3 separate regions of the Homo sapiens genome follow, and all the other regions are linked to region 3. The links come from fine-mapping of genetic effects on gene expression. A gene starts in region 3. Each other region holds a variant in brackets. All regions are shown on one strand. Distances are between the middles of the regions. Region 1 overlaps RAB3GAP2 (RAB3 GTPase activating non-catalytic protein subunit 2). Region 2 overlaps RAB3GAP2 (RAB3 GTPase activating non-catalytic protein subunit 2). Region 3 holds the start of RAB3GAP2 (RAB3 GTPase activating non-catalytic protein subunit 2).

What was found.
Region 1: its variant is fine-mapped to the expression of RAB3GAP2 in whole blood (INTERVAL, PIP above 0.99).
Region 2: its variant is fine-mapped to the expression of RAB3GAP2 in fibroblasts (GTEx, PIP 0.93).

The regions. Positions count from the first base shown.
Region 1 is chr1:220,188,151-220,198,962 of GRCh38, reverse strand. RAB3GAP2 (RAB3 GTPase activating non-catalytic protein subunit 2) reads left to right here. Exons shown (of 35, transcript NM_012414.4): 10 at 2,565-2,713; 11 at 3,586-3,665; 12 at 3,796-3,885; 13 at 5,584-5,723; 14 at 7,679-7,895; 15 at 8,443-8,586; 16 at 8,817-8,899; 17 at 9,196-9,260. Among named protein-coding and RNA genes, the nearest start is that of MIR664A, 7.1 kb to the left of the region's middle. The variant AATGG/G (reference allele first, on the strand shown) is at 6,600.
Region 2 is chr1:220,175,021-220,185,832 of GRCh38, reverse strand. RAB3GAP2 (RAB3 GTPase activating non-catalytic protein subunit 2) reads left to right here. Exons shown (of 35, transcript NM_012414.4): 18 at 92-182; 19 at 1,670-1,797; 20 at 2,902-3,115; 21 at 3,479-3,576. Among named protein-coding and RNA genes, the nearest start is that of MIR664A, 20 kb to the left of the region's middle. The variant AG/G (reference allele first, on the strand shown) is at 3,741.
Region 3 is chr1:220,266,717-220,277,528 of GRCh38, reverse strand. It overlaps RAB3GAP2 (RAB3 GTPase activating non-catalytic protein subunit 2), which reads left to right and starts at 5,076. Exons shown (of 35, transcript NM_012414.4): 1 at 5,076-5,306. The coding sequence starts at 5,192. It also overlaps the pseudogene AURKAP1. RefSeq lists enhancers at 6,481-6,982, 9,064-10,263.

The DNA.
Region 1 (10,812 bases), 79 kb after region 3:
GAAAACTTTAGCTAGTCACATGGCTTTCTCCCTCTCTTCACTCAGGTCTCCTTATATATCACATTGTCAAAGAGGCCTTCATTAGTCACTCTACTAGGCCTAGAAAATTATCCAATGAGTTTGACTTTATGGAAACTTATATTGAGAGGGACTTTGATGTCTTTCAAAGTGTGGGAAGGCCTCAGACGCTCAGGGAAAATTCTAAATGACAAGGTAATAATAACTCCAGAAAAAAAAGAATGCACAGCCAAGGAAATGTAATTACAGTAAGTAGCATGTCTCAGCAGTGAGTAATGCTTATATCATTCCTAATAATAAAAACAGTGAATTTAATAAAACGTTGAGATACAAATATTTTGGAAGGATATAGGGCGAGAAAGAGAGATGTAAATAAGCCATACCACCTTAAGTTAATGAAAAATAGTGCTAAAATCAGTGACTCGAAAGATAAAAGCCCCCTAAATTCAGTACCAATGTGTAGCAATATAAAGGGCAGAAAAACACTTTAAATAATACTATAGGAATGTGGTCAGCTGTAGACTGTGGGAAATTAGTCTCAAACAGCCTTGTTGCTTCAACAAATAGATTTCAAAGGATCGAGGATGGGAAGGAAGGGTTGAGGAGGTCAGAAGGATTTTGGACCAAGCTTTATGTCCATTTGTTTGTGGTTCTTACTTTGAAACCCAGAGGTATTGTTTTTCTTAGCAATGATCAGCTATTTTGCTTCAAGAGCAGAGAATGCAGAAAGTTTAGGTCAACCAAGATTAAGATTTAGCCAGAGGAGTATGTGTGTAGGGGGAAACGAGTGTAGGGAGGTTGTGGATATTTGCAAGAAAGTGATGATGATGGAACACAAAGCTAAGCTGGATGGAAAGGGAAGTGATCCCAAGAGGTACTTGATAAATAGTGGAAAAAATAGTAGGATTAATTAGTTTAAACTCGAAATTGTGAAATTACTGCAGGGAGTTTCTGGAGTAATTGAGATGGAAAGCTAGGAGGTGGTGGTCTAAGTGTGGTAAGCTTGAAATCAAAAATACAAAGAATCTACAGTTGCTGATGACAGGATCTAAAGTGTGACATTGAAAATAGATGATTTAAGTTATAGGAAGGAAAACATCATTGGTAGCAAGGATGGAAAGGATTGATCAGCCATTTCCTTACAATAAATTAGAATCCTTTAAAAAAATTGCATATCTATTGCAAAATTGTCCTCTGGATTACTGTGTAGTAATTTATACTCCCATGTATATTGCATGGGAGTTTAAAAAGAAGCTGTTTTAAAACTTAAATTTCAATTTATGTGCCATATAGTTTGCCCTTTGATCGTGTTTTGGTGGAGTCAGGCAAAACTTAAGCAAATTTTGTAATGTAGTGAAAACATTTTGTATACTGAATCATGGATTCATTCATGACTATGAGATAGGTGTTCTGATCTTTTATAATGGTCTAGGAGGTGGGAGGGGAGTTTAAAAAATAGTCCAAGGATTTGTTTGATCACTTTAATTCCTATAAAGCCAGTGAATGGCTTGCGTATGAACTCACTCAAAGAATTTCCTTTCCTAGGACACGTCTTAAGGACGAATGCATTTTTTGACAGTTTTCAGGCAAAGGGGAGGCCTGAAATATATGTATATGAAATTTAGTAAGGTCAGGCACAGCAGCACACGCCTATATTGGCTGGGCACAGTGGCTCACACCGGTAATCCCAACACTTTGGGAGGCTGAGGCTGGAGGATCACCTGAGGTCAGGAGTTTGAGACCAGCCTGGCCAACATGGCAAAACTTCGTCTCTACTAAAAATACAAAAATTAGCTGGGCATGGTGGTGCGCGTCTGTAATCCCAGCCATTCGGGGAGGCTGAGGCAAGAGAATCGCTTGAACCTGGGAGGCAGAGGTTGCAGTGAGCTGAGATTGCACCATTGCACTCCAGCCTGGGCGACAGGGTGAGACGCCATCTCAAAAACTAAAAAAAAAAGAAGTGAATTGGTATTTGGGGATATAAGTGGACTGTATACTTCTGGTACCTCTGAGTTTCATATCTGTTCAAAAAATTAAATTTTGTTTTTATGATATTCTATAGATTATGGAAATTATAGATGGAAATTTTAATATTTATTATTATTATTTTTTTGAGATGGGGTCTCGCCCTGTTGCCCAGGCTGGAGTGCAGTTGGTGTGACCTCAGCTTACTGCAACCTCCACCTCCCAGGTTCAAGCAATTCTCCTGCCCCAGCCTCCCAAGTAGCTAAGATTACAGGCACCCACCACCATGCATGGCTAATTTTTGTATATTTAGTAGAGGCGGGGTTTCACCATGTTGGCCAGGCTGATTTCAAACTCTTGACCTCAAGTGATCCAACTGCCTTGGCCTCCGGAGTGCTGGGATTATAGGAGTGAGCCACCATGCCTGGCAGAATATTTTCTGATGTTGACTTTGTAGCTTTTAAAATGACTTTTGGTTATTAAATAAAACTAAACATTTAGCATCTTAGAATGGAACTGAAGTAAAAATGTAATGACCGCAATAACATTGTACATTCAAATCACTTTTTTTTTTTTATTAGGTATTATGACTCTGTCCCCCTTTGATCAAATGAAGACTGCCTCCAATATAGGTGGATTTAATGCAGCAATTAAAAATAGTCCACCTGCCATGTCTCAGTATATCACTGTAGGGTCCAATCCATTTACTGGCTTCTTCTATGCTTTAGAGGTATGAGTTTTATCAATGATCATGAGTAAGGCTGCTCTTGATTTTACAATTTGTCTACAAATTGGATATGGTAACTTGCTTAGCCTTAGAAGATTAAGCAGTTTACATTTCTAAATTTCAATTGAAACTAAAATTAATCTCAACTAGCTTTCTTCTAAATTCTTTAGATTAACTGAAAAGGTACTACCATCAGTATAAAAGGAAATTCTTTGTTTCTGAAGCCCTGAGTTCTTTGATAGCTGAGATGTCTTTAAATATTGGTGCAATAGTCAGGAGCTCAGGCTTGTTAATGATGCCAGCCCACTAGGGATTTGAGTAAATGAGGAGTTGTAAAGACAGAACAAGCTGCCAACTATACTTGTTATAAGTGGTGAAAATTGCTTCCTAAAATAGTGGAAAGTTGAGTGTTAGATTTGGCAGCTCTTGTTTCTCACTTAAAAAGCATGCTTCTCAGAATTGTCCAAAATATCTTTTTACTTTTATAAAAATGTGTGTGTGTATATGTGTGTGCATATATATATATTTAAAGAGAGAAAGGAGCCAGTTATGTGTAGGTGTGAAATCCATAGTCCAGCTAGAATAATGTAATCTTAATGTCCTAGTTTAAAATTTATTTGAATGAAATTACAATTTAAAGAGAGAAATTCTAATGGTAAAATAGACTAATTGTGATTTTATTTTTAAACTATAGAGTTAAAACTTTTTCTCATATTACGCCTAAAATAAACTTTTTACTGTACTCTGAAAGAAGCTGAGTTGCTAGTCCAGCCTTTACAACTTTTCAAAGCATTTTAAAGTAAGCTTTATTTAGAAAGTATGTTTGTTTCTTTGTAAGCTACTAAGTTTTCTCTTTCAAATGTTCTGTTTTTCAGGGAAGCACACAACCATTATTATCCCATGTTGCACTAGCAGTTGCAAGTAAACTCACTTCTGCTTTATTTAATGCTGCCAGGTAATTACTTAACAATTAAAATAACAAATATCTCATTTGTATCTAGCTTGCTTTTAACTTATATTTTGATAGTTTGCACTTTAAAACCCTGGAAGCTCAGTTTTATATTCTAAGTTTTCTTTCTTTTCAGTGGTTGGCTTGGTTGGAAAAGTAAGCACGAAGAAGAAGCTGTCCAAAAGCAAAAGCCGAAGGTTGAGCCAGCTACCCCATTAGCTGTAAGGCAAGTCTGTCATGCTTCCCAAATTTTAGTCCTTTTAGAAAGGTACTGTTAAATGTATGGTCTTTCCGTGTGCTTGGTTGATTTGCTGATCTTGTCTTTGGAACTTCTGAAAGCCATTACAGTGGAATTTCTTTTCCCACTAGAATGTAAAACTCCATGTGAAGAGTGATTCTTACCTGTTTTGTTCACAGCTTTATCCCTGTTATATACTAGGTATTCAAGATGTATTTCTTGAGTGTGCTTTTTAACAAATAAACTTAGCTTAGTTGTAGGAGAATTAATTCAGTGATAGCTGTTAAATTTCTTTTAAAAGTTTAGATAGTTTGTTACTAAGTTGTATAAACTTTAAAAGTACTTAGTGATTTCTTTTTAAAAAAGTCATCCTAGTGGATTGCGGTGGCTCACGCCTGTAATCCTAGCACTTTGGGAGGCCTAGGTAGGCGGATCACTTGAGGTCAGGAGTTTGACACCAGCCTGCTCAACATGGTGAAACCTTGTCTCTACTAAAAATACAAAAATTAGTCAGGCATGATGGCATGTGCCTGTAATCCCAGCTACTCCGGTGGCTGAGGCAGGAGAATTGCTCAAACCCGGGAGGCAGAGGTTGCAGTGAGCCGATATTGCACTGTTGCACTCCAGAGTGGGGGACAAGAGCGAAAAACTCCATCTCAAAAAAAAAAAGTAAAAGCAGGAGTCCTGTATTCAGGCACTCTTTAAACAGACTCCTGTCCTGTGCTTCCTTGTTTACTTCAGTAGTGCTTTAGAATGTGTTAGTATATTGGTGAGTTTTTTTTGGTGGAGGGAGCATGATTTTTGTTGCTTTTTTTTTTCATTATTATTTTTTAGATAGGAGCATGTTTTCTAATGTTTGGTTTTGTTTTAAAATCATTTTTTATTACCTAATATAAAGTACCACCATGAAGGGAAATAGAACACCTCCTCTTTATGGATGTTCTTCACCTAAGAAGAGCCAACTAATTATTAAAATTTATCGAAGTATAGCTTCTAAGTTTTTTTTCATCTTTTTAAAAAATACATTGTAACATATCACATTTCCTAATATCAAGAGTCAATAAATTAGTCACATGGCCCTGTGCGTCTCTAATAGATGTAACAAAGGTTGGGCACCTTTGTTTCAGGGACTTTTCTCTAAATGAGCTTTCCTAGTTCTCTTTTAGTACTTCTTTACTTTTATTTTACTCACAATTCTAATGAGGTTGATTATAGAACAACAGAAGTTTAGAGATAACTATTTAGAAAAAGGAAGGTTTTTGCTTCAGGCAGATTGGTGTCAGCAGGATGTCATATCTTGCAAAAAAGAGAAAGATTAAGAAGAAGAATTTAAAATAGACAAAAGATGCCTGTGTGGGAGCATATTCTAAAATTTAGTTGATGGTGAGGACATTGTTTTCTGTGACATGCCTTTTAATCAAATATAGTTATACTTTATATTCTCTAAAGGTATAGGGTTGTGGGTATCTATTGAAAACCTACATAGGACTGTGGTTTTATTTCTTTTATGTATTTTATATTACAAATGTCAGTTGTGATTAATAAATTAACTATTAATCCAGGTAAAATTCATATTTCTTTATATAAAAACAGATTCAGCCTATTTCATTTATGCATTTCGTTATTCTGTTATATGTTTCTGAACTGGAATGTGATTTGAGCATTTTATTTTCTTTTAAATATCAGATTTGGACTTCCAGATTCTAGACGCCATGGTGAAAGCATATGTCTGTCTCCATGTAACACACTGGCAGCAGTAACAGATGATTTCGGCAGAGTTATTTTATTGGATGTAGCTAGAGGAATTGCAATACGCATGTGGAAAGGTACTTCTTACAAAAATCCAGAAAAACAATTAATTCACTTTTTACCCCAATAGTTGAGCAATGTTATCATCCTTCAGCTTCTGGATGATAACTCTGTTTAATTCTTCATGTTTACATTTTCTTTTTTTGACATGAACTCAGATCAGCAACCACTTGGTCCAGTAGTCAGTTGATACATCTTTTAGGTTTGATCACCTCATAGCCATGTTTAACCTTTGCCTTTTGCACTTTCTTTCAATTCTCACTGTTATTGTCAATTTCTGAGTTCAGTTTCTTGCCCCTGCTACATTTATTCCCCTTCACAAAGCCATTCTTGAGCCAAATGTTCTCCCCAAATCTATAATGCCAAGTCTTTCAGATTTAAGATAGCAAAACCCATCTTCACTGACTTGACTTTTATATCCATATGCTTGGGTCAATCCACCTGGTGTGTCAATAAGTATGTCACTTAGGAGTTTCCTTCAGCTATTATTAACAGACCTGAGTAACAGACCACAGTATCTTCAGGAACCCAGTCTTCTTCCTTGTAGCTTCCCCACTCAAGGTTCTCATAGACAGCCCTCTTATCTGCATTCCGGGAAGGAAGCAGAAAGGAAGAAGGCTTCTCCTGGCAACTGAGTCAATCTACTTTGAAGATATTCCCCGAAGTCCCTTCAACCATTATCTACATTAGCCAGGACTTAGTGACATGGCCTCATCTAACTATAAGGGAGACTTGAAAATATCTTTTAACTAGGCACATTGTGAATAATATCTCCCTGACTAAGAAAGAAGGGATGATTACATTATTTAGAATCATCTGGAATAGTAACATGTCAGCATAGACCACAATTTATGGTGCAATCTTGTCTATCCTGTAAAATGTGAGGAATAATG[AATGG/G]ATTGAGGTCATTCAATTACTCTGGACCAGATTGAAGCCACTATCACCTTCTTGCCAAAGAACTCCTGCAGTGATAGACAGAGGCAGTCTTTACCTACTACATGTCTCAGTATCTGTAGAAATAGTTTTAATACTGCAGATACATCATTTCTCCTTGGTGTTTGTCTTCTGAAACAATATCAAAGGTATGTTCTCAGCAAGACTTTTCTAAAATACGAAGACGAAGCTGTACTGACTGCTCCAAATCCACTATGGCAATCTTATTCCTTGCATCATTGCCTGTCTGCAGCTAGTACAGCCAGTTTTTCTTTCCATTGTGTCCTTGGAAAGAAGGATCAATTGCCTATGTGAGGGACCACCCTAAAATGGAAAATAGCATCAGCTACGTCTCCCATGCAAGAGCTTCCTCCCATCGTCCTGTAACCCATATTTTCTATCTGCATGTCACCAAAAGGCTTGTGTGGGAAGGGAAGGGAATGAGAGCAGGAGGGGTAATCAGGTGGCTTCAATTATATCTATAATCTTTTCTCTTTTTTTTTTTTTTAGAGAGTTTCGCTCTTGTTGCCCAGGCTGGAGTTCAATGGTGCGATCTGGGCTCACTGCAACCTCCACCTCCTGGGTTCAACTGATTCTCCTGCCTCAGCCTCCCAAGTAGCTGGGATTACAGGCATGCGCCGCCATGCCTAGCTAATTTTTTGTATTTAGTAGAGACAGGGTCTTACCACGTTGGTCAGGCTGGTCTCGAACTCCTGACCTCAGGTGATCCACCCGCCTCAGCTTCCCAAAGTGCTGGAATTACAGGCATGACCCACTGTGCCCAGCCAATATTTTCTTTTTAAAGAGAAAAAGTGGTCAGAAGTAAATATAGCAAAATAGTAAGATTTGATAAGGCTGGGTGATAGACTGGTTATTATTTATTATCATTTTTTATTTAAGATATTCCATAATAAAAAATATACTTTTATAGCTTTTCTTACCCCACCCCCACCCCCACCCCCACTATTCCAGAGTACTTCAGGAGGCTACTATGGAACCTAGATTAAGTAATTAACTTCCCTTTACCTCTGTCTCTAAGGGTACCGCGACGCACAAATTGGATGGATTCAAACTGTAGAGGACCTCCATGAAAGAGTGCCAGAAAAGGCAGATTTTTCCCCCTTTGGAAATTCTCAGGGTCCAAGTCGAGTAGCTCAATTCCTTGTGATCTATGCGCCAAGAAGGGGAATTTTAGAAGTGTGGAGCACACAGCAGGGACCTAGAGTAGGAGCTTTCAATGTGGGGAAGCACTGCAGGTAAGCTGCAAATGCTGGCATTGTGCTGGTTACAAAATGAAATATAGGAATGCTTTTATTAAAATAAAGCTTTACTAAAGCTGCTTATTAGATTACAAGTTTGAGAATTACAATATTCTTTATTGTGGTTTTTCCTGTGAGTGCCTGGCATGTACTTAAGTATTTAATAACAAAAAAAAAAAATTAAAAATGCCATGATAGACTGCTGAATTAAAGTTAGCTTGTTGCTAATGTTTGTCCCTTACTTATGCTGGGAAGGCTCAAAAGGAAAGGTTCCTTTTGCCCTAGTCATAAGTGAGGTGAATGCTTTGTTTGCCATTGAAACAGGGGCCTGATTGTGTTCATTTAATTTTTTAGAATCTTTCAACAAGGCAGAACTCTGCTGGTTGAGCCCTGCTTTACTTATGTACTTGCTATCAGTATTTAGTTGCCTTATTAATGCTCCTAAATTGATAATAATGTTGGGTTTCCTAGCTATAATAAAAGCACCTTTTGGCATTTCTCCTTGTTCTAATATTTTTACCATATTGGTATGTGATTTCTTTAGGCTGCTGTATCCTGGCTATAAAATAATGGGTTTAAATAATGTTACCAGTCAGAGTTGGCAGCCACAGACTTATCAGATCTGTCTGGTTGATCCAGTGTCTGGAAGTGTGAAAACAGTGAACGTTCCCTTCCATTTAGCACTGAGGTAAGGTGTGTCCAGTGTTGCTGATTGACGCTCCTCTGCTAACTTTTCCTAGTTCCTAGGTTTGTTGTACTCTCTTTTGTAGTTGCTATTTTGTTGTTTCCTTTGTCTTTAGACTGATATCTTTAAAGTTAAATAGGAAATATATAAAGGAAAAAAAAGTTGGAGTGTGTCAGAATTAGAAAGAAAATAATTTCACATTCTGTAATAATTTGTTATATTTATTGGTTTAGTGATAAGAAGAGTGAACGAGCCAAGGATATGCACCTAGTGAAGAAACTAGCAGCCTTACTGAAAACAAAATCTCCCAATCTTGGTAGGTATTCTCTCATACAAATAATAAAGCATATTGTTCTATCATCTTTTAAATCAATAAAATATTCTGAATGGAGCAATCAAAATAATGCATGGATGAGCTTATTGGAATTGCTCTGTAAGGCTGAAGTGTGCCATCTAGAGGGTGTTATAATTCATAACAAGAAAACATTAATGTGAGAGAACCCAAAAATCCTTTAGACTCACTGATAGTACAGATATGTTCATTTTCTTTCAGAATAATGTTTCACTGTTATAAAAATTAAAATTTTACTTTGATTATTTTTTTCTTTATAGATTTGGTTGAAACAGAAATAAAGGAATTAATTCTTGATATTAAATACCCTGCAACCAAAAAACAAGTAAGTGTATATAATACACGAACTTTCCTGCTAGTAGCTATAATACATCCTTCTTAAGAAAATCTTTATTTTCCTATTTCCCCCAAACATGAGAGGCTGAAGTCTTCTTTTCACATTTTTATTGTTTATCCCTTTCTTTATTTTCAGATAGAAGTTCCTGTTGTCTCTTTAAAAAAAAAAAAAAAAATTAATATTCATGCCTGTAACTGTAATCCTAGCACTTTGGGAGGCCGAGGCAGGGGGATCATGAGGTCAGTAGTTCGAGACCAGCCTGGCCAACATGGTGAAACCCCGTCTCTACTAAAAATACAAAAAAATTAGTTGGGTCAGTATTGGCGGGCGCCTGTAATCCCAGCTACTCAGGAGCTGAGGCAGGAGAATCATTTGAACCTGGGAGGCGGAGGTTGCAGTGAGCTGAGATTGCACCATTGTACTCCAGCCTGGGTTGCCATACATCTGAGTGTGTTTTATATACACATACCTACACATCCCTACATTATATATATTATATATATAAAATAGTAAATATGTGTGTATGACCACCTACCTTAGGAAATAAAATCTTACCAGGAACTCTAAAGAGCCCTGAGTGTCCCCCCTCAGTCCCATTCCCTTCTCCCATCCCTAAGGTAACTGTAATTTAGAATTTTGTGGTTCTTTCTTTTTCTTTACTTTATAGTTACGTCATTCCTGTGTGGCTCCTTTGAAACCTGTTGATGCATTTCCTGCCTTTTCAAACTTTATATAAATGCAGTCATGCCCTATGTCTTCTGTGACTTTAGTTTTTCCTTCAGGATTATGTTTCTGTGTCATTCATATTGGTGTATGTAGTTATAGTTATAATTGATTCATTTACTATGCCATACAAATTCTGCTCACTGACTAGAATTTATTTACACTCCTGTCAGTGAACGGTTAGGTTGTTTCCAGATTTTTGACATTACAAATGATGCTATGCTTATCCATGTACATATTTCCTCATTCACATATGCAAGAGTCTCTCTGGCGTTTATACCTAAGAGTGGAATTGCTAGGGTGTGAGCTTCTTCAACTGTACTAGTTGATGGCAAATTGTTTCCCAAAATAGTTGTACTAATTTATATTCCCACCTGTTCTGTATGAGTCCCTGTTACTCCACAGCCTCAATATTCCATGGTATTGCCAGACCTTTACTTTTTGCCAGGCTCGTGGTTATAATATGGTCACCACTGGTGATTTCTTTTACTCCCACTCCTCCTATCCAAACCCCTCATAATGCTATTCAAGTCCTAACTCCACAAATTCTTACATAATGCTTCGATCCCCATGGATAACTCTGAACTCCTACTCTACTTTCAATCAAAACTGGATAGTTAATGACTACTTATTTTCTAATTATTTCATGTATGTTAATCATAGCTTCCCCGACTTTTTTTTCTTTAGGTCTTTTAAGCTCCTTCAAGTAGGAACCTTACCAAATACTTGATTTTTATAATTCACAGCATCTAAAATAATGCTACTGTGAAAATGTAAGAAAAAACTGTATCACAGGTTTTTTCTTTTCTCTTACACA
Region 2 (10,812 bases), 92 kb after region 3:
GGGGTAGTGAAAGTTTGGGCATAAATATAAGATTTAAAAAACAAAATCACTGCCTTATAATTACTAGAACTGTTCAATATCTTTCTCCTAGGCTTTGGAAAGCATTTTGGCAAGTGAACGTTTACCATTTTCTTGCCTTAGAAACATCACTCAGACTTTAATGGACACTTTAAAAAGTCAAGGTAATAGGGTTTGTACTGATTGGAGGTTATGTTCTTAACTCAAATTTTGTAACTCTGATTATAGAAAGCTATTGACTTTGTGATACCATCATGTTACTTTAATGTGGAAGTAATATAGATATAAGAAATTAAGAATCTTATTTATTCCCTATTTAATATATGTAGTTGATCTTCATCTAAGCTGTCTTTGAATGTATTGACTGTTATTGGGAAGTTGTTTTTAATTGTGAGGAAAGATGTCAGGATAGAATGATAAGTGGTTATTCTGATATAGCTTTGTATTAATGTTCTATCAGTGTATCAGTTTCCCTCGTGAACAGAGTTAAGGACTTCCAGAATCACAATCAACAATCAGATTATTATTTCTGAATTTTCTGGTCATTTTTTGATATTCAAAATTTGTCTGTACTATCACATTGTTCTTTAAAATCCATCAGTCCGTCAAAATGTATTTGTCTGAAAAAGGATTACACTTGAAACTTGAAACTGTGGGGTTGTAACACCATATTCCATCCAACTGAACTAGTAAAAATTCACTTTATTCTGAATTCCTAACATCAGTTAAATTGTGTGCAGTGGACTGATGTCATCTAGTTGTGACTTTTGTTTGTCATATTAATTATGTAAAACCAGCTTTGTGTTTTAGTTGTGTGTAAGACAGCTTAAAGTGGCTTAATACACAAATTATAATTTGTTCTTTCAGGACTTCAAACATGCTAATTTTGAGACTCTTTTTCAACCTTTTTTTTTTAACAGATACATAAAACTGACATTGGCAAATAGTGAACTCCTTTAGCATACACCACTTGTCAGAAATAAATCCCTCTTTTAAAAAGCGTGGTATACTTACAAAGCCCTCCCACCCCTCAAGGCATTCACAACATCCCAAAATTTATTAAATGAAAAGTTATCTTCCACTGGCCTGGTAGTAAACCAAACACCATTGTTGGAATTCCATAAAATCATCAGTTTCAAGTTCTACATAAACATAAGATTCCTAAAAACTTTAATCATTTTGTGTGGTCAGTTTTATTATGGCTATAAGAACTTGAACAATATTCCATGATACTGTATTTCAAATAAGATTTTGAGGGGATTATCAGTGTCTCCCTTTTTAAAGAATAAATATTTCTTTTATATTAGATATAAATATTCATACAGTATATGAATTATGTAGTCAGGGAAAATATTTTCAAAGGTATTTCCAGATAATTTCTTTAAATTTTAAGTATTAGATGAAGATATTTCCGCTTCCTTTTTTATCTCCCTACTTTTAGAGCATCTTATTTTATTTAAAAAGTTAGACATTTTGTCATGACAGAAAAATTATTTTTGCTTTCAAAACCTGGTATAGCTTAAGCATCTCAGTATTTAATACATCAGAGCATCAGGGAATTACATAATATTGAGAGATTTAATGAAAGCAAAGCCTGTTTATGAGTCTGTTAAATATATCTCTTATATATACTTTTCCTTCTGCCTTTTAGAACTTGAGTCTGTTGATGAAGGATTGCTACAGTTTTGTGCCAATAAACTAAAACTGCTGCAACTCTATGAGTCTGTCAGTCAATTAAATTCCCTTGATTTTCATTTAGACACACCATTCTCTGATAATGTGAGTAATCCCACATTTTATATTATATAAAATAATCTCTTTGATTAGTTTTACTTTTTAAAATTAGTAGTAAAGAAGTAGAAAATTAAGAATTTTTTTTAAAGCTTTAAAGGTATATTTTCCTTACCAAGCCCCCTGCTAGCTCTCTGTGCTTTGCTGCTATATTTATATTATTTATACAAGTGCTGAGATTATAGGCATAAGCCACTATGCCCAGCCATGATATGTTTTTGTACATATAGTATATAAAAATAGTTTGAAAGCCTAGCAGGTTGTATCCCTGAGAGCCACATACAGGACTTATATGTAGATACAATGAGAATATTTTTCTATGTTTTTATTTTATAGTGTTTACGCTGCTTTATAATTAAGCATTTAAGTTCAATATTTAGTTTCCTCAGAATAGTAAGAGTTGCGTTTGACACCCTTTTAAATTTTTTTCTGATTATACAGTAATACATGTTTATTAAAATTCTAGCATTTGCCAAGGCATAGTGGCTTGCACCTGTAACCTTAACACTTTGGGAAGCTGAGGTGCGAGGATCACTTGAGCCCAGGAGTTCGAGAGCAGCCTGGGCAACATAGTGGGACCCTGCCTCTACAAAAAAAAAAATTTTTAATTAGCTGGATGTGGTGGTGCACACTTGTGGTCCCGGCTACTCAGGTGGCTGAGGCAGGAGGATTGCTTGAGCCCAAGAAGTCAAGGCTGCAGTGAACCATGATTGTGCCAAGGCACTCTAGCCTGGGTAACAAAGTGAGACCCTGTCTCAAAAAAAAAAAAAAAATGCTAACATTCTAGAAGATAATAAAGTACCCTCAAGAAATATCCTAAAATGGTACTTTTAATACCATTTCTTTTAGTACCTACCTCTAGTACCATGTTTGGTTTGGTACCAAACATGCAGTGTTTCAAAATTATAGTTTACTTTATTTAAATAACTTCCTACTCATGAAACGTGATTTGTAAGTAAAGTTTTAAGCAGAATACATGATAGGTATTATATTAATTAAAAAGTCGACTTTTGCTTACAGCCTTGAATTTCAGTTCAGATAATGTGGGTGATAGATGTGGAATGTTGTTTTGTTTTGTTTTCTGTTTTAAAGGACTTGGCTCTGTTACTAAGGCTTGATGAAAAAGAACTGCTTAAGCTCCAGGCATTACTAGAGAAATATAAGCAAGAGAACACCAGGACAAATGTTCGATTTTCTGATGATAAAGATGGTGTGTTGCCTGTAAAAACATTCTTGGAATATTTAGAATATGAAAAGGATGTGCTCAACATAAAGAAAATAAGTGAAGAGGAATATGTGGCTTTAGGTAGGTAAAATAATACACTGGTCTTTGTATGCCTCTTCTTTTAGAAGAAAACATGGTAGGAACATATAGCATCTCAGAGATTCCATTTGTTTTGAAATTTAAATAATGAAAGGATTTAATGTACTGTATTTTTTGGCCAACAAAAGATACTCTGGTCAACAGGTTGTATTAATGAGTATACTAAAGAGACAATATTGGATCATGATTTGCTTTCTGCTTTAATAAATCAAGCAAATTGAACAATTAATTTCTCTTCCTTCATAATGTTTTGTTTCTCTGGAATTCCAGATTGTGATTCAATAAGATTGTTAGTCCAAATGGTAAGTAGTCATTGATTAATGTGCTTTGTTTTTCTTCTACCAGGTAGTTTCTTTTTTTGGAAGTGTTTGCATGGAGAAAGCTCCACTGAGGATATGTGTCACACTTTGGAGTCGGCTGGTCTTAGCCCTCAGCTGTTGTTGGTAAGGTTTTTTTGGTTGCTGGATGCTGTTCTTCCTTGTGAATGTCACCCAGAAGTGTCAGTCTTCTTTTTTTTTTTAACTATTGTCTTTTAGGATATCACAGAATGTCCATGAAAACTTTCTAAAAATGATCAAAGAAAATTTTAATCACCATATTTAATAGA[AG/G]TAATATTATTTATTTTTCTTATACCCTGTAATTTTTTTTTTCTTTTACTTTGAGAGAGAGAGAGAGTCTTGCTCTGTCACCCAGGCTGGAGTATAGTGGTGTGATCATCGCTCACTGTGGCCCCAACCTCCTGGGCTCAAGCCATCCTCCCATCTCAGCCTCCTGAGTAGCTGAGACTACTGGGCAATTTTTTTTTTTACTTTTGTGGAGATGGGGGTCTCGCTATGTTGCCCAGCTTGTCTCAAACTCCTGGCCTGAAGCAATCCTCCCCGCATGACCGCTCAAAGCTTTTGGATTACAGACAAGAACCACCATGCCTGGCCAATTTTCTGTAAATGTTAACAAGCATATCGTATAGTTGGCCTAAAATAAGTTTAGAATCTGTGTGCACCCATCTATATGCGTGCATTTACAGTGGAATTGGATCATCAGTAAAAAACTGTCATGTTACAATGAAAAATATCTTAAAAACAAAATAAGCTTCCCATAAAGCAATGTGGAATTGTTACCAAACATTTTCAGACTTTGAATATATATTATAATGTAATCTCTAATATAACAAATATAAAACAAAAGAATCATCCAAGGAGGAAATACAACACTAAATTTTTACCCTTTCTGAAAAAAACAAGGAAAGTTACCCCATCTTCCTTGTTCTTCTTTGTTATTACCTATCCCCTACACATGCATGCATACACAGTTGTCCCTCAGCACCCATGGAAGATTGGTTCCAGGAACCTCCCCCTCCATTACCAAAACCATGGATACAGAAGGTCCTGATAAAAAATGGTGTAATAAAAAATTAGCCAGGCATGGTGGCATGTCCCTGTATTCCCAGCTACTCAAGAGGCTGAGGCATGAGGATCCCTTGAATCAGGGAGATCAAGGATGTGCTGATTGCACCTCTGCACTCCAGCCTAGGTGATAGAGTGAGACCCTGTCTCTAAAAAGCAAAAAAGTTAAAATGGTGTGGTATTTGCATGTAACCTATGCACATCTCCTGTATACCTTAAATCATATCTAGGTTACTTATAATACTTTCTGCAATGTAAATGTGTAAATTGTTAAAACTGTACCGTTGAGGGAATAATGACAAGAAAAAAGCCTGTACATGTTCAGTATAGATGGAACCGTCCATCTTTTTTTTTCTGAATATTTTTGACTCACAGTTGATTAAATCCACAGATGTGGAATGCATGGATACAGAGGGCCAACTGCATACTCTTTCACACACCCCCATTTACATGTTATATTTTGGCCAGGATTTGGGCATCCTACCTCTGTGAGCTTGTTGATGGTTTAATGTGTTGTTTTTATTATGTATGTGTCTGGTTTTGGTATCTGGGTAATGTTGGCCTCATAGAATGAGTTTGGAAGTATTCCCTCCTCTCCAATGTTGTGAAATAGTTTGAGTATAATTGATATTAGTTCTTCTTTGAATGTTTGAAAGAATTCAGCAGGAAATTCATCAGATCTGGGCTTTTCTGTGATGGGAGACTTTTTATGACTGCTTCCATCTCGTTACCCATTACTGGTTTGTTGAGGTTTTCTGTTTCTCTACTGCTGTTGGCATAAAGCTGTTCATAATAGTCTCTAATGATCCTTTGTATTTCTATGGTATCAATTGTAATGTTTTCTTTTTTGTCTCTGATTTTATTTATTTGAGTCTTTTCTCTTTGCTTCTTAGTCTAACTAAAGGTTTGTTGATTTTGTTTATCTTTTTTAATAAAAACAACTTTTTTTGTTGATCTTGTGTAATTTTTTTATTCTCAATTTCATTTATTTCTGCTTGATCTTTATTACTTCTTTTACTAATTTTTAGGTTGGTTCTTGCTTTTCTAGTTTCTTGAGGTGCATTGTTAGATTGTTTATTTGGAGTCTTTTTATTGAGGTGTTTATTACTATAGACTTCCCTCTTTTCTTTTTTTTTGAGACGTAGTCTCACTCTGTCACCAGGCTGGAGTGCAGTGGTGCGATCTCGGCTCACTGCAACTTCCGCCTCCTGGGTTCAAGCGATTCTCCTGCCTCAGCCTCCTGAGTAGCTGGGACTACAGGCATGCGCCACCACACCCAGCTAATTTTTGTATTTTTAGTAGAGACGGGGTTTCACAATGTTGGCCAGGATGGTCTCGATCTCTTGACCTCGTGATCTGCCTGTCTCGGCCTCCCAAAGTGCTGGGATTACAGGCGTGAGCCACCGCACCCGGCCGACTTCCCTCTTAGCACTCCTTTTGCTGCATCCCATTGTTCTAGTATGTTGTATTTCCATTTTTATTTTTTCAAGAAATTTTTAAATTTTATTTTTAGTTGCTTCCTTGCCTCATTGGTTGTTCAGTAGCATGTCGTTTAATATCTGTATTTGTGCAGTTTCCAAAGTTCCTCTTGTTACTGATCTCTACTTTTATTCTGTTGTCAGATAAATACTTCACATGATTTTGACTTTTTAAAATTTGTTGAGAATTGTTTTGTGGCTAACATATGGTCTGTCCTGGAGAATGTTTTATGTGCTGATGAAAAGAATGTGTATTCTGCAGCAGCAAGTGAAATGTTCTATAAATGTCTATTAGGTCCATATGGTCTAGTATGTAGTTTAACTCTGATCTTTCTTTATTGATGTTCTACCTGGAAGATCTGTCCATTCCTGAAAGTGAGGTTGAAGACCTCTGTTATTACTGTATTGAAGTCTGTCTCTCCCTTTAGATCTATTAATATTTGCTTTATATATTTGAGTGCTCCATTGTTGGGTGCATATATACTTACTATTGTTAGATCCTCTTGCTGAATTGACTCTTTTTTCATTGTATAATTACCATCTTTGTCTTCTTTTTTTTTTTTTTTTTTTTTTTGAGACAGTCTCACTGTCGCCCAGGCGGGAGTGCAGTGTCATGATCTCGGCTCACTGCAACCTCTACCTCCCAGGTTCAAGTTATTCTCCTGCCTCAGCCTCCCCTTTGTCTCTTTTTATAATTTTCAACTTAAAGTCTATTCTGTCTGATATAGGTACAGCTTCTCCTGCTCTTTTTTGGTTTTCATTTTTATGGAATATCTTTTTCCATTCCCTCACTTTCAGTCTATGTTAGCCTTTATAGGTGAAGTGAGTTTCTTGTATGCAGTATACACTTTTATGTTGTTGAGTCACTCTATGTCTTTTTTTTATTATTATTATTCCTGGGCCTAAGCTATTATCTCCTCTCAGCCTTCCAGTCAGCCAGGACTATAGGTGCATATCACTGTGCCCAGCTCACTCTGTGTCTTTTAATTGGAGAATTTAGCCCACTTACATTCAGTGTTATTATTGATTGGTAAGGTCCTACTACTGCCATTTTGTTACTTGTTTATTAGTTGCTGTGTAACTCCTCTCTTTTTTCTGTCTTTTTTTTTATAGTTAAGTGATTTTCTCTTGTAGTATGTTTCAATTCGCTACTTTTGATTTTTGTGTATCTATTGTAGGCTTTGCACTGTGATTACCATGAGGCTTACAAAAAAAATCTAGTTACAACAAGTATTTAAAACTGATACCAGCTTAACTTTGATCACAAAACAGCAAAACCAACAAACCATAAAAAGAAAACCTATACGCATTAACTCTCTTCTCCCCCCATTTTAGCATTTTTGATGTCATCATTTTATGTTATTGTCTCTTAACAAATTGTCAGTTTTTTGATAGTTTTTTCTTTTAGTCTTCTTACTAAAGATATATGTGGTTTAAGCACCGTGATTAGAATATTAGTATGACAATCACATTAGCATCATTTTCTTTCAGTTTGGAGAACTCCCTTTAGTGTCTAAGAAATCACACATTTCTTATAGGATAGGTCTGATAGCAGTAAATTCCCTCAGCTTTCGTTTGTCTCGGGAAATCTTTTATTTCCCTTTTTCATTTCTAAGGAATAACTTTGCCACGTACAGTATTTTTAGGTGGCAGTTTTTTTCCTTTAACACTCTGAACATACTGCCCCACTCCCTCTTGGCCTGTAAGGTTTCTGCTGAGAAATCTGCTACCAAGCATATTGGATCTATCTTATATGTTATTTGCTTCTATTCTCCTGCTGTTTTCTAAATTCTCTCTTTGTCTTTGACCCTTATGAGTTTGTAAATTGGAGTATTCTTGTCTGAGTTAACTCGGATTGGTGACCCTTGACCTTCCTGTACCTGTATATTCTGGTTTGGAAAGTTTTCTGTTATTACTTATTTGAGTAAACGTTCTACTCCTTTGTCTTTCTCAGTTCTCTCTTTAACTCCAGTAACCCCAATATTTGCTCTTTTGATGTTGTTTTATAGATCCTATAGACCTTGTTCATTCCTTTTCATTCATTTCATTTCTTTCTTCTCCTCTGACTATGTATTTTTAAATAGTCTATCAACGAATTCACTGATTCTTTCTTCTGTTTGATCAATTCTGCTATTGATGCTCTATATTGCATTTTTAATTTTATTTATTTTTCAGCTCCGAGGTTTCTATTTGATTTTTTTCATTAGTATTTCAACCTTTTAAAAATTTCTCTGATAAATTTTTGAATAGATTGTGTGGGTTTTCTTAAAGTTTGTTGAGCTTCCATTTTGAATTCTTTGTCTGAGAGATCACACATCTCCCTCACTTTAGATTCTGTCTCTGGTGCCTTTCTTTGTCCATTTGGTGAGGTCGTGTTTCCCTGAATGTTCTCGATGCTTGTGGTAGTACGATGGTATTGTGCATTGATATATTAGGTATGTACTTTAGTCTTCACAGTCTGGCTTTGTTTGTACTTGACCTTCCTCAGAGGGCCTTCCAGGGATTCTAAGCTGACTGACTTTCATGTTCCCTGAGCTTGTGACCACTGCAACACTTGACATCACTCTAAGCCCAGGCTTGCTGCAGGTCTCTCAAGAGCTCTGAAGTTTATGTGGCTTTCTATCCTTCATGGACTGGGGGAAGACCCAAGGAGGGTACTGAGGCTATTTGGGAATACTGGCCAGGGACCTGGGTCCAGAAGTCTGTCCTGGTGGCCCCGACAGGTATGCATCCCAGCAGGTGTCTGCACAGGTGGATGGGTCCCCAGCTGCAGTTAGAGGGGGTAGAAGTGAGACTGGACCTCTTTAGGATCTGTGTGAAAAGGAGGCTGGGGGGCCTGTTTTGTTGGCTCAGATGGTTATGTGTCGCCCAGCAGGTTCCTGCACAAGTGAGGTAATTCCTCAACTGCAACAGGAGGGGCTTGAGCTGAGACTGGGCCCTCTTGGGATCAGCTGTGGGAATGGAGGCTGGTGTGTCTCATGTTGGCTCAGAGAGGCATGTGTCTTCAGCAAGTTCCTGCACAGATAGGATAGTTCTCCAGCTGCAGTGAGGGGGCCCTGAGGGGGATCTGCTGTGAGATAGAGGTTGGTGAGCCTGTCAGGGAGGCTCTGAGTCCTGGGCTGAGAGATATGGGTGAGTCTGCCTCTGGGTCCTTATGCAAGCAACTCTGAGCTGGGACCTCAGCTAAGGAAGGTGAGAGCAGCACCACAAGGCTACTTTCCAGCCCACTGCTGAGACCAGTGCTAGCGGGCAGACTAGCCTTTCTGCCAAAACACTAGTGTGTACAGTTCTTTCTGGACCCCATGGCAAATGGTTTTGGTGGCAGGATCATGGGCAAACAGGGAAGTAGCCAAGCCCCTTGTGGGGACTGGGCTGTTTCTGGGCTTCAATCTGGAAGTCAGTTCAGGGGGACAGATCAACCACCTTATTGTGAGAGAATATAAGTAGGTTGCCTTCTATTCCGCCATCTTGGTGACCTCAAGGTTTCTGTTACTCAAAATCTATTATTTAGACATCATCTGGTTATATGTCAATATATAACATATTTATATGTGAGATAACAGTTAATATTTTAATATGTGAATTCATAATATAAATATATTATGAATAATGTAATGTGGCATTCTTTGTTGTGACTGTTAGAATATCTTATTTTGTATTTACTAGTTATGGAGGTAGTTACCTTTATACACTAGACTCTTCTCCTGTTATATGTGTCCATATATGTGTTTCTATGTGGTAACTTAATTTATCTCTGTATTCACTTCTTTATTTTTCTTCTTTCATCTTAATGTTTCCTGCAATTTAAAATATCTATATTGCTTATAAGTGATTCTACAATTATATGATTATGTTCTGATAGTTTCTTTGGCATCCTCTATTTTATACTGATCTCCTATATACAAACAAAAGCTTGACTGTTTGGAAGTTTTAATGTTTATAGAAAACAGGAAAAACACACTCTAGGTTATAAACAGAGACTACCTGTAGGGTGGGAAATAGAAGGAGGTAACCTAGGGAGAAATAAGAAGCAAAGTTAAGCAGAGCAGGTTTTTTGTTTGTTTCAGAATTTTATTACAAGTGATGGTGGGTAGAGGAGAGGTTGGTTGGAGAGAAAAGTGGAATTCATAGTGTGAAGAGAGGTCCAAGGCATGGCATTTAATTTTTTTGGCTGCCTTAATATAAAATAAACTTCTGGCTGCCAATTTTGATGAGCATTTTGAAACTTTGTTGTTGATGGGGAAATGAACCAAGCTTTAAGAGACATTAAATCTATAGGTATGTTTAGAAATCTGGTATTCCGGCCGGGCGCAGTGGCTCACGCCTGTAATCCCAGCACTTTGGGAGGCCAAGGCGGGCGAATCACGAGGTCAGGAGTTCGAGACCAGCCTGGCCAACATAGTGAAACCCGTCTCTACCTAAAAATACAAAAATTAGCCGGGCATGGTGGCTCGCGCCTGTAGTCCAAGCTACTTGAGAGGCTGAGGCACTTTGAACCTGGGAGGCGGAGGCTGTCGTGAGCCAAGATCGCGCCACTGCACTCCAACCTAAATAACAGAGTGAGACTCTGTCTCAAAAAAAAAAGAAAAGAAAAGAAAAGAAATCTGATGCACTTTAATAACAGGCCCAGGTCAGACATTTTGTATGTAAAATTTATCAAAGTGAATCTAGTGGCAATTTAACAGTGAGCCTAAAATATAAGATAAATTCTGCTCTCCCCCAACATTTCTTTTTGATTTGCTTCCCAGTATACATGCACATAAAACAGCGAGACAGAGTTATTTTTGATTGAGTATAG
Region 3 (10,812 bases):
ATGTCTTTTTTATCTCCTTTACTAGAGCTTCTTTTTCCATCCACCTCTAAAAAAATAGACAGTTGGTCAGGCATGGTGGCTCATGCCTGTAATGCCAACACTTTGGGAGGCCAAAGAGGGTAGATTCCTTGAGCTTAGCAGTTCAAGACCAGCCTGGGCAATATAGTGAGATGCTGTCTCTTCAAAAAACACAAAAATTAACCAGGCATGGTGGCATGTGCCTATAGTCCCAGCTATTCAGGAGGCTGAGGCGGGAGGATCGCTTGAGCCTGGAAGGCAAAGGTTGCAGTGAGCCAAGATTATGCCACTGCACCCCAGCCCAGGTGACAGAGCAAGACTCTGTACCAAAAAAAAAAAAAAAAAAAAAAGATAGTCCTCCCACCTTGTTTTCCTCATCCAATCCTGCTCTCACTGCTCTCACCCCATCTAGAATCCACTGGCACTTTCATCCCCTCCCTTCAATATAATTTCTGTGTGGAAGACTTCCATAGGTAGGTTCTAGCTCTGGCCTCTCCAATCCCAATTTGGAACTTCAGTTTATAAAAATAACTTAAAAAAAAAAAAACCTAGCTCTTCCACGGGCAGTTCAAATTTAACAAATCCAACACTGAATTTATCCATTTATCTTTTTTTTTTTTTTTTGGAGACAGAGTCTCACTTGCTCTGTCACCCAGACTGGAGAGCTGTGGCACAAACATAGCTCTCTGTAACCTCAAACCTGGGCTCAAGCAGGCTTCCTGACTCAGCCTCTCAAGTAGCTAGGATTATGGGCATGCACCACCAGGCCCAGACAATTTAATTTTAATTTTAATTTTGTGTGGAAATGGGGTCTCTCTATGTTGCCCAGACTGATCTCGAACTCTTGGCCTCATGCATTCCTCCCACCTCTTCCTTCCAAAGCACAGGGATTACAGGCATGAACCACTGTGCCCAGCCTCATCCTATTCTTGTTTGTCCCAAAGCCATTCCTCCTTTTACATTCTCTATCTTGGTTGCTGACATGACATTGCCACCTTTCCAATTCTTTGGACTGAAGACTTGAACATCACCTTGGGTCATATTTTCCCTTCCCACACCTATATCTAACTGTATACCAAAATTCTATTGATTCAGCCACCAGAGAGGCACTGCCTTTCCAATGTTATTACTTCTTGTTTAGAATATTGCTGTGACATCTAGAGGGGTCTATCTGCCTTCAGTCATCCCACATACTTCTACATCTTCTTCAAAATATCTTCAATTGGTTATACCTTGCACACAGAAAAAGACCAGACCATACTATGGTAACTGCCCAAGGGGTTCACCTTGCCCGCTACCTAGACAGAGCCAATTCATCAAGTCAGGGGAATTGCCAGAGAAAGAGTAATTCACGCAGAGCTGGTTGTGAGGGAGACCGGAGTTTTATTATTACTTAAATCAGTCTCCCTGAGCATTCGGGGAGCAGAATTTTTAAGGATAACTTGGTGGGTGGGGGAAAGCCAATGAGCCAGGAGTGCTGATTGGTCAGGGATGAAATCATAGGGAGTCGAAGCTGCCTTCTTGTGCTGGGTCAGTTCCTGGGTGGGGGCTACAAGGTCAGATGAGCCAGTTTATTGATTTGGGTGGTGCCAGCTGATCCATCAAGTGCAGGGTCTACAAAATAGTTCAAGCATTGATCTTAGGAGCAGTTTAGGGAGGGTCACACTCTCCAGCTGCATGACTCCTAAACCATAATTTTTAATCTTGTGGCTAATGTTAGTCCTACGAAGGCAATCTAGTCCCCGGGTAAGAAGGAGGTCTGCTTTGGGAAAAGGCTGTTACCGTCTTTGTTTAAACTGTAAACTAAGTTTCTCTCAAAGTTAGTTCAACTTACGCCCAAGAATGAACAAGGACAGCTTGGAGGTTAGAAGCAAGATGGAGTCGGTTAAGTTACATCTCTTTCACTATCTCAGTCATAATTTTGCAAAGGCGGTTTCACTATTTGGATTTTGAGGTTCTCTATAATCAAGAACCAATTTGTTTAATGCCTTTCCTACCTCTTCCACACTACTTCTTTTCCAAGGGACACCCCTAGGGATCTAAATTAATCTCTCCCTTATTTCTCCCACTGCCCTTTATCCAAAAGCCATCCATGGTACTCATCACACTCTGCTCTTAGAGCATTTGTGTTTGTCTGCTTTTAAGTAGTGAATCTCTGGATCACTTGTCCTTATTGCCTTACTGTGCTTACTACAGTATCTTTAATGTAAAAAGCACTCCATAAATGTTTGTTGAATAATAACTGTAAATAGCCCTTGCTTCTGCTCAATCTTCAATTCAAGGATGACCCTTAGCACAGCTATGAGGTAAGGCTTCAAGGACTCTCCACGCCCTTGCTATGCTCCCCTTACTTTCCCTTAGAGATGTCCAGTACCCTCACATTTTCTCCTGCTGACCCAAGCTTCTTACTAGGGTGCTTACACAGACCACTCCTTCTAAGCAATTCCAGCTCCCAGAACTTGCCATTCCCAGTCTCTTACCAAAACCTACATATCCCTGGGATGAACTTTAGAGCCCAGCCTCTTCATTTTATAAACCAAGAAACTAAGTCCCAAAAAAGTGACATGAATTCCCCAAAGTCATGATTCCAAGTCCATTGCTCTTTCTCTCACATCTGCGTTTAGTGCCCATCCTGCAACTCAACCCCTTCGCTTCAAGCTGCTGCTAAGGATTGGCAAGGGGCTGCTGCTTATCTTCCTCAGTAACACATCTCTCTCTTAACAACAGTCATCTGTGCTCTGACTCACACTAATGGATACTGGAGGAAGTTCACATTGGTACCTGGACTCATCCTGTTGTTATTTTGGTCACAGTGCTTTTCCTACCTCCTGAACCCAGACCTCGGAGAGACACTGTCAATGCTGGGATATGTAAGGCCTGCACATTTTTGCAATGTGCTTTCTTATGACTGTGGAATAAGTGATATTCACTGTCTGATGCAATCCTCCCACATGCCGCAGAAACCATGGTAGCAGAACTCCAGAGGCATCCCCCCCTGTTGCATTACAACTTCCTGGGGGAAGAGTTCAGTTCATGAATGTGTTGTAATTTCTGTGAAGGGTATCTAAAGTCCTTAAAAACATCCATGAATGATCCTTTTCAACAGTACTTGGAAGGAAGTCAGGGACTTCACCATTAAAACTGAGCCAACACAGTAATGAAATTCAATGACCACCACAGGAGACATATGAATGCCTCAGGGAAGAACAAAGGCCAGCAAAATCAGCCAACAGCAGTTACTTCCACAAAATGCATTTACCTGAATAGGAACTTGAATGGTTTTCAAGGAATGACAGTCTCCTTCCAGAAAGTGTCATGTGTTTGTTATTCGTCCAGTAACACTAAGAATCTAAATTTAAATTTTGGTTTAGTTTGGGATTGGTGCTGGATTTTAGGGAATAATCTTATCAGGGCTGGATTATTCTAGTTAGTGATGATCTGAGGAAACACTGCATTTCTTCAGATGGAAGAAGGGAGCACTGGCAGCTTGCTTTTTCTGAAAGCTTTGATTACAGAAGTATAGGTCCCTGATGCTTAAAGGGACCTTACAGCACATCTGATTCAACTGCCTTTTATAGGTGAAGAACTGATTCCTGTTAACCTGATAACATAGAAATTGCCTATCCTATTTTGTGAAAATCATCCTACTCTAGAAGTAGGAAATAATGGAGTAGGAACCTGGGCACTAAATTATAGTTGTTATATTATTAGGACTAAGTGTGTATGTCCACGGGCCTGACAGAAATGAATGCTCTGGACCCCATCCACTTGCCTTTCATTTGTTCCTGTGCCCTTTTTTCATACAAAGTGGATGGCCTCTTTAGGTTTCCTTTAGGAAATGTGTAAGTGCCTACAGGCCTTTGTGCTCACATTAAAATAATTTTTTTTGTTTTTATTTTTTGGAAAAATAACTTAAAGTCTGCTCAGAGACAGCTCAATTTCTTTATTTTAAAAATGGGATAAGACACACTATTTTTAGATGGCATTTGTGACTATCCAAATGAACAATGTAAAGTACTTTCAAAAATAGTGCTTTGTCAAAGAAACAAGTTATTCTATTTACTTTATGTATGCATTCCATTTATTTCTTCAGCAAATATTTATGAAGCACTTACTAGCATGATCACAATTTCAGTTAAATAGTTAAGTACAGTAGTCCCCCCTTTATCCATGGGTTCATTTTCCACATAATTATTCAATTTAATTATTAGTTATTGTTAATCTTTCACTGTGCCTAATTTATAAATTTAACTTTATCATATATATGTATAGGTAAAAACATAATACACATACATAGGTTTCAGTACTATCCATGGTTTGAGTCATCCACTGGGGATCTTAAAACATATCCCCTTGGATTAAAGGGAAATACTGTAATTAATTGCTTACTGCCTGTATCAGTCACTAGAATTCCAGCTTTCTGGGAAAAGGTACTTCTTCTCTTTTGTTCTCTAATGCTCAGCACCCTGCGTGGCTGGCATTTAAAAGACTAACAAATATTTGTTGAATGGATGGATGAATGCATGAATGAAAAACCAAATGAATAATGAAAACAAAAGTGTATAATACACTATAACACGTACTATATTGGGCTTGCGTAGTACTATGGGAATCTATAGTAGGAGCATTTAAAGCCAGCCTTGACGGGGCTAATCTCCGGAAGAGCAATTAATCTTTTCAAAATCCGACTCTTGCAGGATACGGTCCCCCACTGGCCTGCCACTAGTTTAAAACGAATTAGTTTCTGTGAAACATCAGGATCGTGCCAATAGTAGGGGACCAATAAGACTGAATAAGTCAAAGGGCTGCGCGGACAAGTCCAATTAGAACACCTCTGGCTAAAAGCCAGAATGAATGAAAGGGTTCATGCCTCGGCGTAGACACACAACTGGGACTGAAAAATCTGCCCCAAGCCTCCACGTCGACTTTGGCTCCACCTGCAGCGGCGGCGCCGTAGTCACGTGACCCGGGCCCCCGCGCCCTAGGCGCCTGGGCCAGCCTGCGCCTGCGCAGTACTCGGAGACAGCGGACCCGTGTCAGTGACAGCTTCCGGTTTGGTTTCTCCGCCTTCTGCTTGGCTAGAGCTATTGGGGCTCGGTGGCGGCCGCAGTGGGGTGGAGGGGGCAGGGCGTGGTGAGGTAAGGTGAGTGCCGTAGTGGGGTTCCCTGGAGCCATGGCCTGCTCCATTGTCCAGTTCTGCTACTTCCAGGACCTCCAGGCCGCCCGGGACTTCCTCTTTCCTCACCTGCGGGAGGAGATCCTCAGCGGCGCCTTGCGGAGGGACCCCAGTAAGTGCCTCTCTGGCCTCGCCCTTCCTTCCCTCGTCACCCGCGGCCTCTGCTCACGGGTTCGAGTCTCCTACTCGCTCTGCGCCTCCTGCCTCTGCCCTCTGGACCCCCAGTTCTCCCCGTGCCTCCCCTCCGCTCCGGGATGACACCCTGCCCACCTCGTCCTGAAGCCCCATTTGTGTTGTCTTCCTCTCGACCCAGCTTTTCTCCTTAGGCCCTCTGACCCCTGGCTAAAAACTGCGTCTTGTTTCCTCTCGCCTCTGCCTATCACCGCTTTCTCCCTCCCTCCCCCCACCCCCACACATTCCTAGCTTTCTCTCTGAGTATCTTCTCCGTCTCCCATCTTCAGCCTGGGGTCGTTCCCTGTTTCATGTTGCCTGCTCCGTGATCGCATCCTCCCCGTTCCTTGCCACATGTCAGCGCTCCACTCTGGTATTGCCCCAGCTCCCACTCTCTTCCATCCCGGAGACTGTGGCCTTCTGCTACCTCCCATTCCGAAAGTGTTGATCATCCCCCCACACTCTCCCTTCTTTCATCTGCATTTCCCCCATTCAGATTTTGAGAACAAATGGCTGACAAATGAGTGACTCTTGAGGTAAGACTCTCTCAAAGAAGGAAAATAACCTGTCAGGAAGTGAACGAGAATCTACATTAGGAACTAAAATTACAGTGACATAGCCAAGAAAGGTTAATTTGCTTTATTGAAGCCTTCCACCTATTTTTATCATCAAAGTGTTTAATAAGCCTTTCCCCAAGTAGTATAAAGTTCCAAGGCTGGTTTATTAGATACTATATAGGCTTTCAGAATTTCGTACATTTCATTTTGAAAGGGTGTGCCTTGTGTTTTATTTTATTTTATTTTATTTTATTTTATTTTTGCATTTCCAACCTGAAGCACATTTGGCTTTGTAGTACAGCGCTCTCACTTTGTGCTATACCGGAATGGTGATATAAAGCCCACTAAGCTCCTCTCCCTTTTTTAGAAAATTTAGAAGATATCAAATCGAACCCATCTGTGAATGATTGCATACTTTGTGCCAGTCATTGGTGCTACAAACCAAATAAGGTTGGTGGACCCTGCTGTAGGAACTTCTGGTTTACAGACAAATCATTAACTTCCATTCAGTGTGACTGAGATATACATGAGGCATTTTCTTGAAGTGGTGATACTTAAGCCTACCTTTGAAGTACTAGTTAGAGGAGTAAAGGAGCAGTAATAGCATGTGCAGAGGAAGGGAGGCCTGAAATGGCATGGTATTTAGAGAACTAAGAAAAGCTGAATGGCTGGAGAGGAGGATGGGAGAGGAAGAGTTGGGGCAATGAGGCAGTAGTAGTAATAAGGAGCTAGACCATGAGAGGCCTTGTGAAAATTGTGGCGTTTCTCTGAAAGTTTAAGTAGAGAAATGACATTGTCAGATTTGTACTTAATGTAATCAACAACATTTGTTGAAGACCTGTAATGTGCTCTGGTAGCAAAGTGGAGGAGAGATTGGAAGAAGGGAAATGGATTGGGAAGCTCTTCCAGTAATCCAAGCAAGAAATTATGTGAGCTTGAATTAAGAACCTTAGTAGGATGAAGATGAAGGACTAGATTAGAAAGACGTTAAGGAGTTAGAATCTGCAGGACCTTGTGAAGGTCTGGTGATGGGCATTGTAACTAGTAAGTGAGGGGGAGTTTAGGAAGTCTTTGGCTTGTGGTTTGGGCAACTATATGTAATAAGAGAATGAAGGATACAGATTTTCAACCTTTTGCATTTTAAATGTTTATGGTATGTCCAAGTAAGGACATCTGGTTGAACACCAGATATAGATAGTCTAAACAGTAGGGAGTACTGGGCCAGAGATGTTAATTGGGGAGCTAACAGCAAAAAGTGTCAGTTCAGTCTCAAGGATTATGTATGTTGTGAAATGCACTGAGTACTAAAGCTGTAAGCTTAGAGGAGCACTGGTGTTTAAAAGTCAAGTAGAGGTTACTGGGAAGAAGACTGAGAAGGAGTAAAAGAAAGAGGAAAATCATGTGAGAGTAAGGCCCTCGGAGCTGAGGAAGGCGAGAACTTGATGAGGGTGAGGAATGGTCAGCAGTTTTGCAAATGCAGCAGGGGTCAGGTAAGAAAAGGATAGAAAAATGCTTATTGGTTTTGAGAAGGTGGAGGTAACTTGGACCTTAGGACAGTTTCAGTAGGATAGTGGAGGCAGAAAGCATAGTTATAGGATAAGGGGTTAAAAAGTGAAATATACTATTTCAAGGAGCTTGGCTGTGAAGGATAGCAGATGCAGGATTGTAGATAGGGAATGTAGAAAAAAGGAACAGATTTTCTTTATCCTTCTACCACTCTCCTGGTCCAGGCCACCATCTTTTCTCAACCTGGGCTATGATATGATATGTGTCTTCTTCTAGCAATTCTTCCTGCTTTTGCTCTTGGTTTCCTGTAATAATTCTCAACAGTAGTTACAGTGAGCTTTTAAGGCATAATTTAGATCACAACATTGCCTTTTTTTTTGAGATGAAGTCTCACTCTGTTGCCCAAGCTGGAGTGCAGTGGCATGATCTCAGCTTACTACAACCTCCACCTCCTGGGTTCAAGTAATTCTTCTGCCTCAGCCTCCTGAGTAGCTGGGACTACAGGCATGCGCCACCATGCCCGGCTAATGTTTGTATTTTTAGTAGAGATGGGGTTTCACTATGTTGGCCAGGCTGGTCTTGAACTCCTGACCTTGCGATCCACCTGCCTTGGCCTCCCAAAGTGCTGGGATTACAGTCATGAGCCACCACACCCAGCCTAACATTGCCCTTTTAATAACACTCAATGGTTTTTGATTGCACTTAACGTAAAATCCAAAGTTCTTAAATGGTGTATAAGGCCCTTGAGACTCTGCTTCCTGCCATTTCTTGGACCTTATACACCTCTCCCCTTATTTCTTATGCTTCAGACGCTCTTTTTTGTTGTTAAACCAGCCAACCACATTTGTGGCTAAGGTTTTTGCCCTCACTGTTGTCTATGCCTTGGATGCTTTTTGCAGATCTTTGCATGCTAGTTGCATCTTGTCATTCAAGTCTCAGCTCAAATGTCAACTCAGGGCAGCCTTTTCTGACCACCTGATCTAGATCTAAAGTAGTCAATACAACCCCCTTGTTCCTACTTGTTGTTCTCAATCATATCATCCTGTTTATTTTCATCATTATATTTCTACTGTCCAGTATGGTAACCTCTAGGCACATGTGGTTATTGAGCCTGTGAAATGTGGCCAGTGCAACTGAGGAACTGAATTTTTAAAATTCAAGTTAATTTTAATTAATTTAAATTTAAGTAGCCAAAGTGGCTAATGCCTATAATATAGTATGGCACAGTTATAGGTGCTAAAACTCAGGTACATACAGATTGAATACTTGTCCAAGTTACATAGGCAGTTGGGGATATAAATACACCCCAAACATCTAGATTAATTTGCACTATACCTATAGATTTATAAATATGGTTTAATGTATTTCTCTTCTAAATCAAATTCTTGAGTTTATGTATGTTGATATTATTGTGGCTATGATCAGTTCATGTAGAAAATGAACAGAATGGACCTCTTCACCAGTGAGCCCCTTTGTAAAACCTGTACAGATGATCTCAGACTTATGATGGTTTGGCTTCCAATTTTTTAGCTTTACAGTAATGTGAAAGCAATGTGTACTTTGTAGAAACCATACTTCAAATTTTGCACTTTGATCTTTTCCAGAGCTAGTGATACAATGGGTAAGATACTCTTTTGTGATGGTGGGTAGCAGCAGCAAATATGAGAGACTGTACTCTACGGTATTCAAGAAGTACTGTATTCAAGAAATTACATGAGATATTTTCAACCCTTCATGATAAAATAGACTTTGTGTTAGAAGATTTTGCCCAACTATAGGCTAATGTAAGTGTTCTGAGCACTTTTAAGATAGTCTAGGCCAAGCCGTAATATAAAGAGTTTTGAACGTAAACTTTTGTACAGTGAAATTTTACAGAGAAAAAATGACATTAGCAGAGCAGGTAAATAGGACCTGACTTAAACTGCTGATGGTATTTGCCTTTGCTTTTCTTCACTTTATTTATTAATGTTATAAATGTTTATTGGGAAGCAGAAATCATGAGATCATCTTAAATTTTTTTAGCTGATATAGTTGTAATTTCTTAACCTAGCTCATCTCTAGAGGATATGTAAAAACATAAAACACCTCAATTACTTGTGAATTATAGAGGTGTATCAGTTGGTTTAAAAGTGCTTTTATTGGGCTGAGCTCTTGGAAGACTCAGGTCCTTGGGTCATAGGCATCACGGACCAATCTGAAGAAAACTGCATTTCAGGGCCTGTTGAGGCTAAAACTCCAGTTGGAGGTCCAGAACATGTTCTCGTGACTCAGCAATTTCCTTGTCAGAATCCATTACCTGCAAATAGTGGCCAGGCTCAGTGGGTCTTGTGTCCTTCAAATTCTTCGCAGCGTGTTCCTTTGCAAGCACAAAAGCTTGTCTCCAGTCACAAGCCAGTTCAGAATCAGAAGCAGAAGCAATTGCAGGCAACCAGTGTACCTCATCCTGCCTCCAGGCCACTGAATAACACCCAAAACAGCAAGCAGTCCCCGCTGTCGGCACCTGAAAATAATCCTGAGGAGGAACTGGCATCAAAACAGAAAAATGAAGAATCAAAAAGAGGCAATGGGCTTTGGAAGACCTTGAAATTGGTCGCCCTCCGGGTAAAGGAAAGTTTGGTAATGTTTATTTGGCAAGAGAAAAACAAAGCAAGTTTATTCTGGCTCTTAGGGTGTTATTTAAAGCTCAGCTGGAGAAAGCAGGAGTGGAGCATCAACTCAGAAGAGAAGTAGAAATACAGTCCCACCTCCAACATCCTAATATAATCAGACTGTATGGTTATTTCCATGATGCCACCAGAGTCTACCTAATTCTGGAATATACACCACTTGAAACAGTCAATACAGAACTTCAGAAACTTTCAAAGTTTGATGAGCAGAGAACTGCTACTTATATCACAGAATTGGCAAGTGCCCTGTCTTACTGTCATTCAAAAACAGTTATTCATAGAGACATTAAGCCAGAGAACTTACTTCTTGGATCAGCTGGAGAGCTTGAAATTGCAAATTTTGGGTGGTCAGAACATGCTCCATCTTCCAGGAGGACCACTCTCTGTGGCACCCTGGACTACCTGCCCCCCGAAATGATTGAAGGTCGGATGCATGATGAGAAGGTGGATCTCTGGAGCCTTGGAGTTCTTTGCTGTGAATTTTTAGTTGGGAAGCCTCCTTTTGAGGCAAATACATACCAAGAGACCTACAAAAGAATATCACGGGTTGAGAATTCACATTCCCTGACTTTGTAACAGAGGGAGCCAGGGACCTCATTTCAAGACTGTTGAAGCATGTTCCCAGCCAGAGGCCAATGCTCAGAGAAGTACTTGAATACCCCTGGATCACAGCAAATTCATCAAAACCATCAAATTGCCAAAACAAAGAATCAACTAG